Linked DNA regions of Homo sapiens: region 2 is linked to region 1. Evidence: fine-mapped expression QTL. A gene starts in region 1. The other region holds a variant in brackets. All regions are shown on one strand. Distances are from middle to middle. Region 1 holds the start of FCN1 (ficolin 1). Region 2 has its middle 47 kb from the start of FCN1.

Region 1 (5,371 bases):
TATATTTGGTATTCTAATCCACACATATAGAATATCCTTCTAATTATTTTAATCTTCTTTTAGGTCTTTCTGTTCCTATTTGATAGTTTTGTACACAGAAGACCAGCATGGATGTTGTTAGACTTATTCACAGTTATTTGAATTTGGTGTTGCTGATGCAAATTTTTTAAATTTCATTTTTAAATTCTTTGAGGCTAGTTTTTAGAAGCACAATTGATTTTTGCTAAACTTTTTATTCTGCTAGTTTATCTGTAGAAACTCTAGAATTTTCTACATCCTCAATCATGTCTTCTGAAAATAACAACTTTGTGTCTGCCTTTCCAATCTTTTTATGGTTTTGTTCTCTTGCCTACTGCACTGGACAGTGACATGCAATACAATGTTGACCACAGTGGTGATGACAAGCATCCTTATTTGTTCTCAGTCTCTGAGGATGGTTTTCCATTTTTCCTGTTAATTATGTTGTAACTTCTGTATCCACAGCTTCCAAAGACCTCTTTCTATATTCTGTTGTTTCTGTTGGTCCTTATACACATTGTCTTTTATTCCCATGAGCCTGGTTATCGTTGATTGTGTTTTAACATTTCATTTGAAAAAAATAAAACACTTTGCAGAAATAATGACCTGGGATGATGTCATTCTCCTTCAGAGAAGATTTTTGTTTCTTTCAGCAAGGAGCCTGGGGGCATGAGCAATAATTCCAGGAGTTGAGATTCCTTTCCTGGGACACTTAGATGTCTCAAAACCAGTTTGCAGCCCTTGTGAATGTTGGTTGTTGCTCACTCATCCTATTGCTAGGGTGCAGCCCTTCTGAAAGCCAACCCCAAACCCATACCTTTGGCAGGCCGTAGGCCCCAGTCTTTGACCTTCAGCTCTGCAAGATGGTGAAATCACTGCCCAACTTCTCACCTCTCTTTTGGAGATTGGCAAATCCCTGTGCAAAAAGAGGTCCCCACTACTAGTTTCACTTCTCTAAGATTTCTGTGGCTCCTGAGAGCTTGGCAAAGTAATCCTTTACTACATAGCTAGCTTGACGGTGCCTTCGAGCAAATCTCTTTTTAAAGGTTTTGTCTGTTTGTCCTTAATAGGATGCCCCCAAATACCTAAACTGCCATTGCCAGGAATCAAATGACTTTTGTTGATCCAATGTTAAGATATTTTAACTTGCCAGAATCTTGCATTCTTTCATACTCTTGGGAACATTGACTTGATATCTGAAGGTGGTGTTGACTTCTCACCTGAAATAAACCTATTGATGTTGCAAGGAAGAGGAGGTCCCCTCACACCCAGGGGGCAGCTGGCAAATGGAATTGAGGGGCACAGACCTGCTGGCTTTCTCCCTGTTCTGACCCAATCCCAGGTGAGTGCTGCTCCTGAATTGGATCCTCTCCAAGAAAGGAGGCCGCACCACTGACACCCAGACCTCTCCCGCCTGGGCCAGTAGCTCAGGGACACTAAGCGGTGTCTGAGGCAATGAAGCCTCCTGCCGTTGTCTCTCAACAGGCTGGAGCCAACACACACAAACACACACAGTCGAGAGTCGTTGTGGTGCCCAGAGAGCCTGGACACAAGGTCCTGTGTCTCCTGGATCCCCCACCCCTGGGCCGCCCCTCCACTTCTCTCCCACCTGGGGAGCCCTTGAGTTTGGAAACCCAGTCTACACACGCTGGCTCAGAGAAGTTGCAAACCACAAAACAACACCTCTCCCTGCTCCTTAGTCCTGCTACCATCTGACTCTCGTTAGTGACTATTTCTATACGTTCTAAAAATCCCGCACAAAGTGTCCACAGCGTGGCCTGGCTAAGCATGATTCACAGCACGAGATGCGGAGTAGGAACATGGCCTCAGGGATTTGGGGGAACAAGAGGCATCCCCACCTTCAGGTGAAATGAGCAATCCCAGTGATCTACAAGGCGTTAGACAGAATTGAGTCCAATGCCTGGCTCTTACTAGTGGAGTGACTTCAATTTCTCCAGCTGTAACTTTCAAATAATTTACTCCACCGAATGGGGCTGGTGCAAGATGATATGATGGAAATAGTATTTGGGACATAACAAGTGCTCAACATTTTTTTCCTCTCCATCCATGATAAGTGCCTGATGACGGACAAACCCTGAATTTTCTGGGAACAGATGAGGCAAGGAAGCGTCTTCAGCAAAACCTTCCTTATCCCCCAAGGTTAAGGTCAAGGTTTCCGAGTATTGCTTGGGGACAGCTGGGGAATGGAAAGGGGGTGTGGGGGCTGTGTTCTCCTTAAGCCACAAGCAAAGCCGATGCTTTCCAGCAGAGGAGTCTCAGGAGCTCTCTGGACTGGGAGCAGGGTGTCTTTGCTGGGGGAAGAGAGCCCAATGGGGTGGGCATCTTGCTGGAGCCTAGTGGAAGGAAACATCCTTTGAGATGACCTCATACCTCCTGTTGGTGCAACTAAGCAGCCCATAGGAAGTGGGTGTCCCCCAGGGAGTTGAGAAACTGTGGCACAAGGCGAGAGCTGGTTTCCTCTGCCCTGTTAGAGCTGGGGGACTCTTCAGAGTCAAAGGCCAGAGAGCATGGAGCTGAGTGGAGCCACCATGGCCCGGGGGCTCGCTGTCCTGCTAGTCTTGTTCCTGCATATCAAGAACCTGCCTGCCCAGGCTGCGGACACATGTCCAGGTGAGACAGACCTGGGTTTTCTGGTCCCTAAAAGCTGGTAACAACCCCACTCACTGACACTCGGGTGTCCCAGGCAAAACCTTTTATGCACATCTTCCTGTGAAGATGCCCAACAGATCTGTTTTATCCTCAGGCAAGGACATGGAGGCTCAGGGCAGCTGAGGCATTGCCCAGGGTCATGGAGGGATAGGGGAGGGATGTCACCAGGTCTGTCTGCCTCGAAAGCCCAGGATTTGCCCATTGGAGCTTCATAGGTGGGTCTGGAATCTGTCACTGAGAAGGAAGAAAATACTGTTGACTTTATCTTCTTACGGGCTTACCAGGGAGGCACTCTAAGACCCTCTAATACGGTGGCTGCCACACGGACTTGGGGGGTTTGTTAAAAAGGCAGATTTCTGGCTCTCCTCCAAGAGAGTCGGAATCAGTTGATAGGGACAAGGGTTTGAACGGTGGTAAGGTGTTTCCCTCACTGATTCAGGAGCAGGTGGTTCTGTGACGCTCAGCAAGAGACTGCTCCTAAGGACGGCCTGGTGCCCCTGGCTGATAACATATTTATGAAGGAAACATAAATAGTAAATTACAGCCTGCTCTAGTGGAAGGAGGACTGGAAACACAGAAAGGAAATACCCCAAAAATGGCAGTGCCATGTCTCCGGTGAGAGCACTGCTCCGTTCCATGGTCTCTAAGAGCGCCCTTAGCAGGGCGTGTAGATTTTGTAATGAACAAAATGAAAAATATTTTTTCAAAGAAGTAAACAACTTTGGTTTGGCTGCAGCTGTGCCACACCTGGCTCTGTGTCCTTGGACCCCACACTGCCCCTCTCCAGAGGACCTAGAAAGCCCCTTCCAGCCCAGTAATTCTACAACCACATTCCCAAGGTCTGGGAGGGAAAATGCTTTGTCAGCCCCAATTCCCCAAGTTTCTTAGAAATATTGATTGTCATTAGTTATTGAAAGTGCCCGCTGTTTATTAAGCTCTTTCTAAATGCCATAAATTACAATAAGAGATTTAAAATGCACATTCTTTAACCAAATCCTGGCCGCAACCTTGTTATTATCCCCGCTTGGCAGCCCAGGGCACAAAGCTCAGAGGAGTTAAGTTACTTGCTGCAGGACACACAGCACTGAGGAGATGGGGCTCCCCTAGGTCGGGGTGGCCTCCAAAGCCAGAGCTCTGCCCCCCATCACATCTCCGCCTCACCAGTGCCTGAGGGGTGAGGACAGACCAAGGCCCCAGCAGAGCAGAAAACCTCACTTCCCAGCCACTGTTGGGCCAGGCACTGAGTGGGCACCTGTGTTTCTCTGCAGAGGTGAAGGTGGTGGGCCTGGAGGGCTCTGACAAGCTCACCATTCTCCGAGGCTGCCCGGGGCTGCCCGGGGCCCCAGGGCCAAAGGGAGAGGCAGGTGTCATTGGAGAGAGAGGTAGGTGCGGGCCGGGTGGGGAGGCCAGGCATGGCAGGGGCACTGGCTCTTGCTCTTTATGAAACTGGATGCAGAGTTGGGCAACACCCCCACCGTGGTTCCTAGATCAAGAGCCTGGGTCAGGCCCCTGCTAGAGCCAGGAACAGAGCTGACTCCCAGGGCCCAACAGGGTTCTGAAATGGAGGGAGGGTCTTTCCTAACTATTTCATGAGCTCACATTTGGACATGCTTCTGTAGCTCTGTCTCCTAGTCCTTGATCCAATACCAGCTTTGCTCAGCTACTGGCACGACTTCTAAGCTCTGTGTCCCTCCACCTTCTCACCTGAAAATTGAGGTGACCGCTTTCTTCTGCACCTGCCTCATATGGGAAAACTGAGACTCAAAGAGGTCACAGGCTTTCCTACTTGACAAACCAGTAAGGAGTGGGGCTGGGACTTGGACTGGTCTACTTCAGGGCACAGAGGGCACCCGAATCCTGAGCCCTGAGCTCTGCATGTGGATTTGCAGGGAACATGGGAGAATGAACAGCAGGCACCTGCCTTGGGTGGTTTTGGGTCCCCCTAAGCATGGCATAAGGCAGACGTGCACAAAAACTCAGAAAGGGCGCTGCCTTAGGGGGTGAGCTCCCCATGCCTGGACGCATTCAAGATGATGCCTGCGGAGCACTTGGTGGGGATGTCCCAGTGTAGATGGGACAAGCTCAAATGTCCCTATGACTTGGACTTTCACTGACGTGTCTAGGCTTCCGTGTGGGTGTCCGGGGCCAGGTCCTCTGTGCCCACTCCGCAGGCTGGACCTGAGAGTGCGGTCCCGATCCCCTGCTGAGGGAACACTGGGGAGGAAGACCTTCCCTGGCAGGAGAAGAATCAAGTCTGGCTCAGACTTCCCTTGAACCAGGCTTCTACCAGTGGGCATGGCTGGCTAATATACCCTAAAGCAAGAACCAGCCCCCATACACTCTCCCCAGCCACTGGGGTCAGCGAGCGGGCTGGGGGCTGCCTCTTGGCTGGCATCGGGGACGGGAGGGTCACCTTTCTGGCCAGAACCACGTGGAGCGCTGTGTGACACCCCAGGAGCTCAGGCGCACGGTGGAACCGGATCCTCCCTGGCAGCAGCGGCTGCACGTGGCGCCCACCCTCTCCGTGTGGGGACGTGGTAGGATGAGGCTCTCTGAGGACGCATTCTTTGTTCCAGAACCTGGTCCCTTGCTAGGCAGTAGAGCTCTGTGTGGGTGACTTGGGTCCAGGCTTATGGTCAACAGAGTGTGAAACCCAGGTTGCTCCCAAGGCACAAACAGGAGC
Region 2 (5,371 bases), 48 kb before region 1:
GATTGTCCCAATTATATCTCTTCTTCTTCTTCTTCTTTTTTTTTTTTTTTAAGGAAAGGGGACTAGAATGTAGCACTATGGAAAATTAAAATCTTGAGAAAGCAGCATTAGAATAAAATGAGTCTGCTTATGGGCAGCCCTTCCTCCCCCTGATTAATCAGACAGGAGGCTGCTGTGAGCAGGCTGGTTCTGCTGAGGCTGCGCTCTGGGGCTGCAGTGAGAGAGTCCCATGTCCACGCGGGCAGACGCAGCCGCAGATGCCCGAGGAGCCTGGCCTCCTCAGCTGCCCGTTTCCTGCTCTGAGCTGACAGCAACTGCCCACGCCCAGGCCACTGCCTGCTGCTACTGCCTACTGCAGACGCAGACGCACTCCCTCTAAACTGAAGAAGTTCTTTCTCAGGGTTCCTTCTCATGGTCTGAGAAGGCAGCAGTAATAGCGCAGATAGGGGGTCACCTCGGGGAGCCTTATTCTCTCCACCAGGACGAGCTGAGGGTGCACAGGAAGGTCGACTGCCCCTTGGGGGGCAAGTGGCACAGGCACTGCTGAGGGGCACCCGGACGTATCTCCTAAAGCTGAGGACACACGAAGCCCACAGATCAATTGTGAAGCATGAATGTGAAACTGCATGTCTACAGCGGCCTGCGAAGGCACCCCTGTCCGGCGATCCCACGCGGGGCGCTGCCGTGGGACATTCTCCCTCTTTTCATCCGTGCAGCGGCTCTGAGGGGGGCATGGGGCTTGTCCCTGGGTCACCGTTGAGGGACTTGAGGGATGTGGATGGCCCAGTGCCCCCAAGGAGGCTGCGTAATTGGGCAGCATAGCTAGAGGCTTTTCTCAGGATGGCTGCTCTCAGCGTGAGTTGCAAACCCCTTGGGCAACCCCTCTTGCCCCAGTCTGGGCTGGGAGGCACTGGGGGACTCATTTATTGCTTTCACATCAGGTAAGCCCAGCTGCAAAGCTGTTCCCGAGACCAGAACTGCATGTGGCATCTGCAGAGCCCAGAGTCCACCAGCAGCCTTGAAGCACAGAGGAGGGAACTGGCCCGAACATTCAAGAAAGGAGGGCCCAGGGCCACCAGAGGGTAGCAACCAGCCCAGACTTCTGGTGCCACTGCCCACCAATCCCGGCAAGGCCATTGTCCCCCGCCAGGGCTGTGGCTGCTAAATGCAGGGCAGGCATGGGTGAGCTGCAGGCTCCAGGTGGCTGGGATCCCCCTCCTCCTCCTCTCTCCATCCCCCAGAACAAGGTCACAGACTGGACCGTGCTGGCCACCATGGCACACAGGGCCTTCAGGCATCACCCGTGAGTTCCCTTTGTCATGGGAGAAATGGGGGCTTGGAAAAGTGGTTCTTAAATAGGCAGCGGCCTCAGGCTATTAGACACCTGCTCGGCCCACAGGCGCATCAAGACCAACTCCCTAGCGGCCTTTTCAGGACGACCTTGATATCAGCAGGCAGGAGTTCCAGCGAAGGGGAGGACACGCCCACCTGGCTCTGTTAGGCTTGCTGTCTCACCCTCGGTGCATTGGCACCTGGTCTTCTTACCAAGCAACAAACCCATTTTTACCCTCTTTGACTCCAGGCAAACAACCCTGCGTCCAGACAGTTAGGAGGCGAGAAAGGCAAGGGCGGCTCCACCCTGGCATCTCAGCTACCTCCCTAGAGGCTGCGTCAGGAACTGGTCACCATGAGTCTTCCTGCTCATTGTGGAGCCTTTCAAGTTATCAGTGAGAGTCCTTGGATCAGCTCGATTACTTTAGAAACTTTATTTCCCCAGTTTTAAAAGCCATGCGTGTTCATCGTGGAAGGCTGCACAGTAAAGAGAAGCCTGCAGGCCTTCCTTCTTGGCGCATTTGCTGAGAATTTGCTAAGGGCTCTGCTGTGCCCCATGCTGGAGATGCCTGTCCCTGTGGGTTTGGGCCTTGGAGAGGCAATAGTTACAATGACTCACCAAGGCATGTGTCCTTGCAAAGGGATGGCTGAAGGGCTGGGCACGACAGGGAGGCAGGCCTGGTAGCACCAGATCCAGGGGTTTCTCAGATTCTGCTCTGAGTGGACACAGAGGGCAAGCATGGGGGAAGGCTGTGGCTGGCCAGCGTCACCGCCCATCACCTCACAAAGATGGTGTGTTTGTCATCTGCTACCATGCAGCAAATTAACCCAAAACATAGAAGTTTCAACAAGAAACATCTCTTATCTCAGGGTCTGTGGGTCAGGAATTGGGGTGCTTCTGCCCCAGGGTCTCTCATGAAGTTGCAGTCAAGTTGTTGGCCAGGGCAGTATTCATCAGAACGCTCAACTGGGGTGGGAGGAGCTGCTTCCAAGCTGGTGCATTTGGCCATGGGCAGAGGGCTTCAGTCCACACCATGTGGGCCCCTGGTAGGGCTGTTCCTGGGTCTCTGCAATGTGACAACTGGCTTCCCCAAGAGCCAGTGATGCACGAGAGAAAGCAGGAAGAGGCTGCAATGCCAGGCTTGACCAACTCTGAGGCCACACTGTAACCCATCCGGACACCAGGTCCAGCCCACGTTCAAGGGGAAATGAGTTGAACTCCACCTCTTGAAGTGAGGATTACCAAAGAAATGGTAGCCATATCTTAGAATTTCTGTGAAAATCTTTCCATATTTCTCTATGCTGGCTTATGCCTGCAGATATAAATATTTAATTTTTATAAATTGGATGATAGTATACAACCCATGTTGAATCCTGATCTTTTCATTTAAACATGTCAAGGAGAAGGTCTTGCATCTGGAAATGTGGATATGTGTCATTAGTTTTGATATTTTAGGCATTATATTTCAAATAACATGATGCCCTAATAAATGTTTCTTGAGTAAGTGAATAATGGACAAATGCCCGGTGACACCATTAAATGTCTTTAACCCCTCACCTACAGGGAGTTCCAGTTGGATTCAATGCTCAATTATTTTAGAATTTAGATAAATATTGCATGAGAGATGGCTGGTGTTCCAACCACGCTCTCTTCCCCCGGTGCACATGTTTCTCAGGCGGTCCTGTGTGTACTGGAGTCTGGTCAATGGGA[G/C]GTGAGAGGAAGTGCTGTGTTCTGCTTCTGGTCAGCCATAAAACCCCTCATGTGTGGTCCTCACGCTCTCTCCCTCTCTGTCTGCTGAACCAGAGAAGGGTGGTACCATGGAGCAGGCAGGACCTGGATCACAGCATCGCTCTGTGGGTTTCTATGTTGGGAGAAACTGCCGAGGTTTGGGGCTGTCTCTTACAGCAGTAAACACACCAGATCTTTGTGCCTTTGCCTAGGGATCTGAGACATTCTCCCAGGGAACTGGGGGCTGGTTCAAAGGACACATGTATCTTCAGCGTGGATACCTGCCATCAGACTGCCCTCCACACGTGGCCGTTTCTCCTCCCAAGGGCTCTGTGGCGTGGCCTCCAGCTCCTGCAGGCATTCCACAAGCAAAGCAAGAATGTGGACCCCAAAATGTGCTCCCCAGAGCTCAGGTCTTGATGCCACCCCCTCCTTTCCTGGACTGGAAACTGCCTAATATGGGCCAACTGGGTCATCTCAGCTCTCAGTTCTGAAGACATGACTGTCCAAGGAGCTACTCTGTAGTCCCAGAGCGGTGGGCACCCGGAGGCTGCACTGCACATGGGGCCAGGGCTAACTCCTCCCCATCTGGGGCACAGCCACACCCCGTCCTACTGCCCTGTTGCTCCATCCCTCCTCCTCCACTGGGCACTGGGCTCCTGGCAGGCAGCTTCTGTCTTGGCCCAGCTTAGCACACAGTAGGCACCGGAGACATGCACCATGTAAACGAATCAAAACAAGGATGAGTGAGTGAGAGCGTGGCTGACATGCATGTTAGGAGCTGAACCAAGCTGCCCCTCGCCCCAAATTCACATGTTGAAGTCCTCACCCCAGCAGCTTGGAGTCTGTGATCGTATTTGGAGGTAGGATTTTCAGAGAGGTAACTAAGTTAAAATGGGGCCATTAGGGTGGACCTTAATCCAATAGGACTGGTGTCCTTAGGAGAAGGGGTGGTAAAGACATGGACACCCACAGAGAGAGAAGATGGCACCCACAGGCCAGGGAGAGGGGTCTCAGAAGGAACCAGCCCTGCCAGCCCCTTGATCTCAGACTTCCAGCCTCCAGAACCGGGGACAATACATTTCTGGTGTTTAATCCTTCGTCAAACATAACATGCTTCATACAGCCGCTGAGCAGACTCGTATAGGGGGCTCGGTGGCTCGTGACTGGACTAGGGAGGTCTGAGGCCTCAAAGCCAGCAGAGGCCGGGGCCTCTGGGGGTTCCAGCAAGTTCCTGTGATGAGGGTCCGGACACCCGCCCACGACCTCGGCCCCACTCGCTGCTGCGTGGGCTGCCCCTGGCCGCGGTGCCAGCTTCCACCTGCGATCCCCATTTTGTCTCTCAAACCCTGCGGATCTGCCCTCATTAGCTGCTCCGAATCCCATTTTTAGTCCTTTTATTTCCACACCTCTGAAACGTCAGCATCTTTCACTTCATTGCCGGTATGGAGCCCTGGAAGGCCAATTATTCCCCATTTGGAACAAGTTCTCTTCAGCACGAAGAACTTCACATAAAAAGTTATTCATTTTATTTCAGGCAGCTTGGAGAGAAGTCATGCCCTGTGATGAGTTGGAGAGAAAAAAAGGCGCAAGCAACTGCAAGGTCCGTGTGTGTGAACGCCGCATGGATTTGCCTCCAAAGAACACGTGAGCGACCCGCGCTGCGAGCAGTGCCTGGCTCCCGGGGCCCCGCGTGCTGGAGCCGCTGCGGTCACGCCTGGTGCTGTGAGCAGTGCCTGGCTCCTGGGGCCTCGCGTGCTGGAGCCGCTGCCCTCACACCTGGAGTTAAAGACACTGGGGCTGAATTCGGGCTCAGCCACTGTCTGCATGACCAAGGGTAAGTTACTTAACCTCTCTTTGCCTTGGGTTCCCCATCTGTGCCTGTGGCTGAGACCATTTCCATCTCAGATGCATAAAGTGATGAGCACAGTGTCGAGCCCCACAGTCAGCCAACAGCACCGTCATGATCATCCCTGTCTGGGTTGTTCCCTCAGTCAGCCCATGAGGCAGGTGGAAGAGATCTTACTAATTACGCAGAGGAGGAAAGGGGAGCTCAACAATGTTAAGGAGCGGCCGGGCGCGGTGACTCATGGCTGTAATCCCAGCACTTAGGGAGGCCGAGGTGGGTGGCTCACTTGAGGTCAGGGGTTCGAGAACAGCCTGGCCAACATGGCAAAACTCTCTCTCTACTAAAAATGCAAAAACTAGCCGGGTGTGGTGGCGTATGCCTATAATCCCAGCTACTCGGGAGGCTGAGACACAAGAATGGCTTGAACCCAGGAGGTGGAGTTTGCCGGGAGGTGGAGGTTG

What was found. PIP is the estimated chance that this variant, and not a neighbour inherited with it, causes the effect. A credible set is the group of variants that fine-mapping cannot tell apart.
Region 2: its variant is the best candidate, but not a certain one, in a credible set for the expression of FCN1 in whole blood (GTEx, PIP 0.82).

Annotation. Positions count from the first base shown.
Region 1 is chr9:134,915,047-134,920,417 of GRCh38, reverse strand. It overlaps FCN1 (ficolin 1), which reads left to right and starts at 2,506. Exons shown (of 9, transcript NM_002003.5): 1 at 2,506-2,649; 2 at 3,957-4,070. The coding sequence starts at 2,547.
Region 2 is chr9:134,962,670-134,968,040 of GRCh38, reverse strand. No RefSeq gene overlaps it. Among named protein-coding and RNA genes, the nearest start is that of FCN1, 47 kb to the right of the region's middle. The variant G/C (reference allele first, on the strand shown) is at 3,044.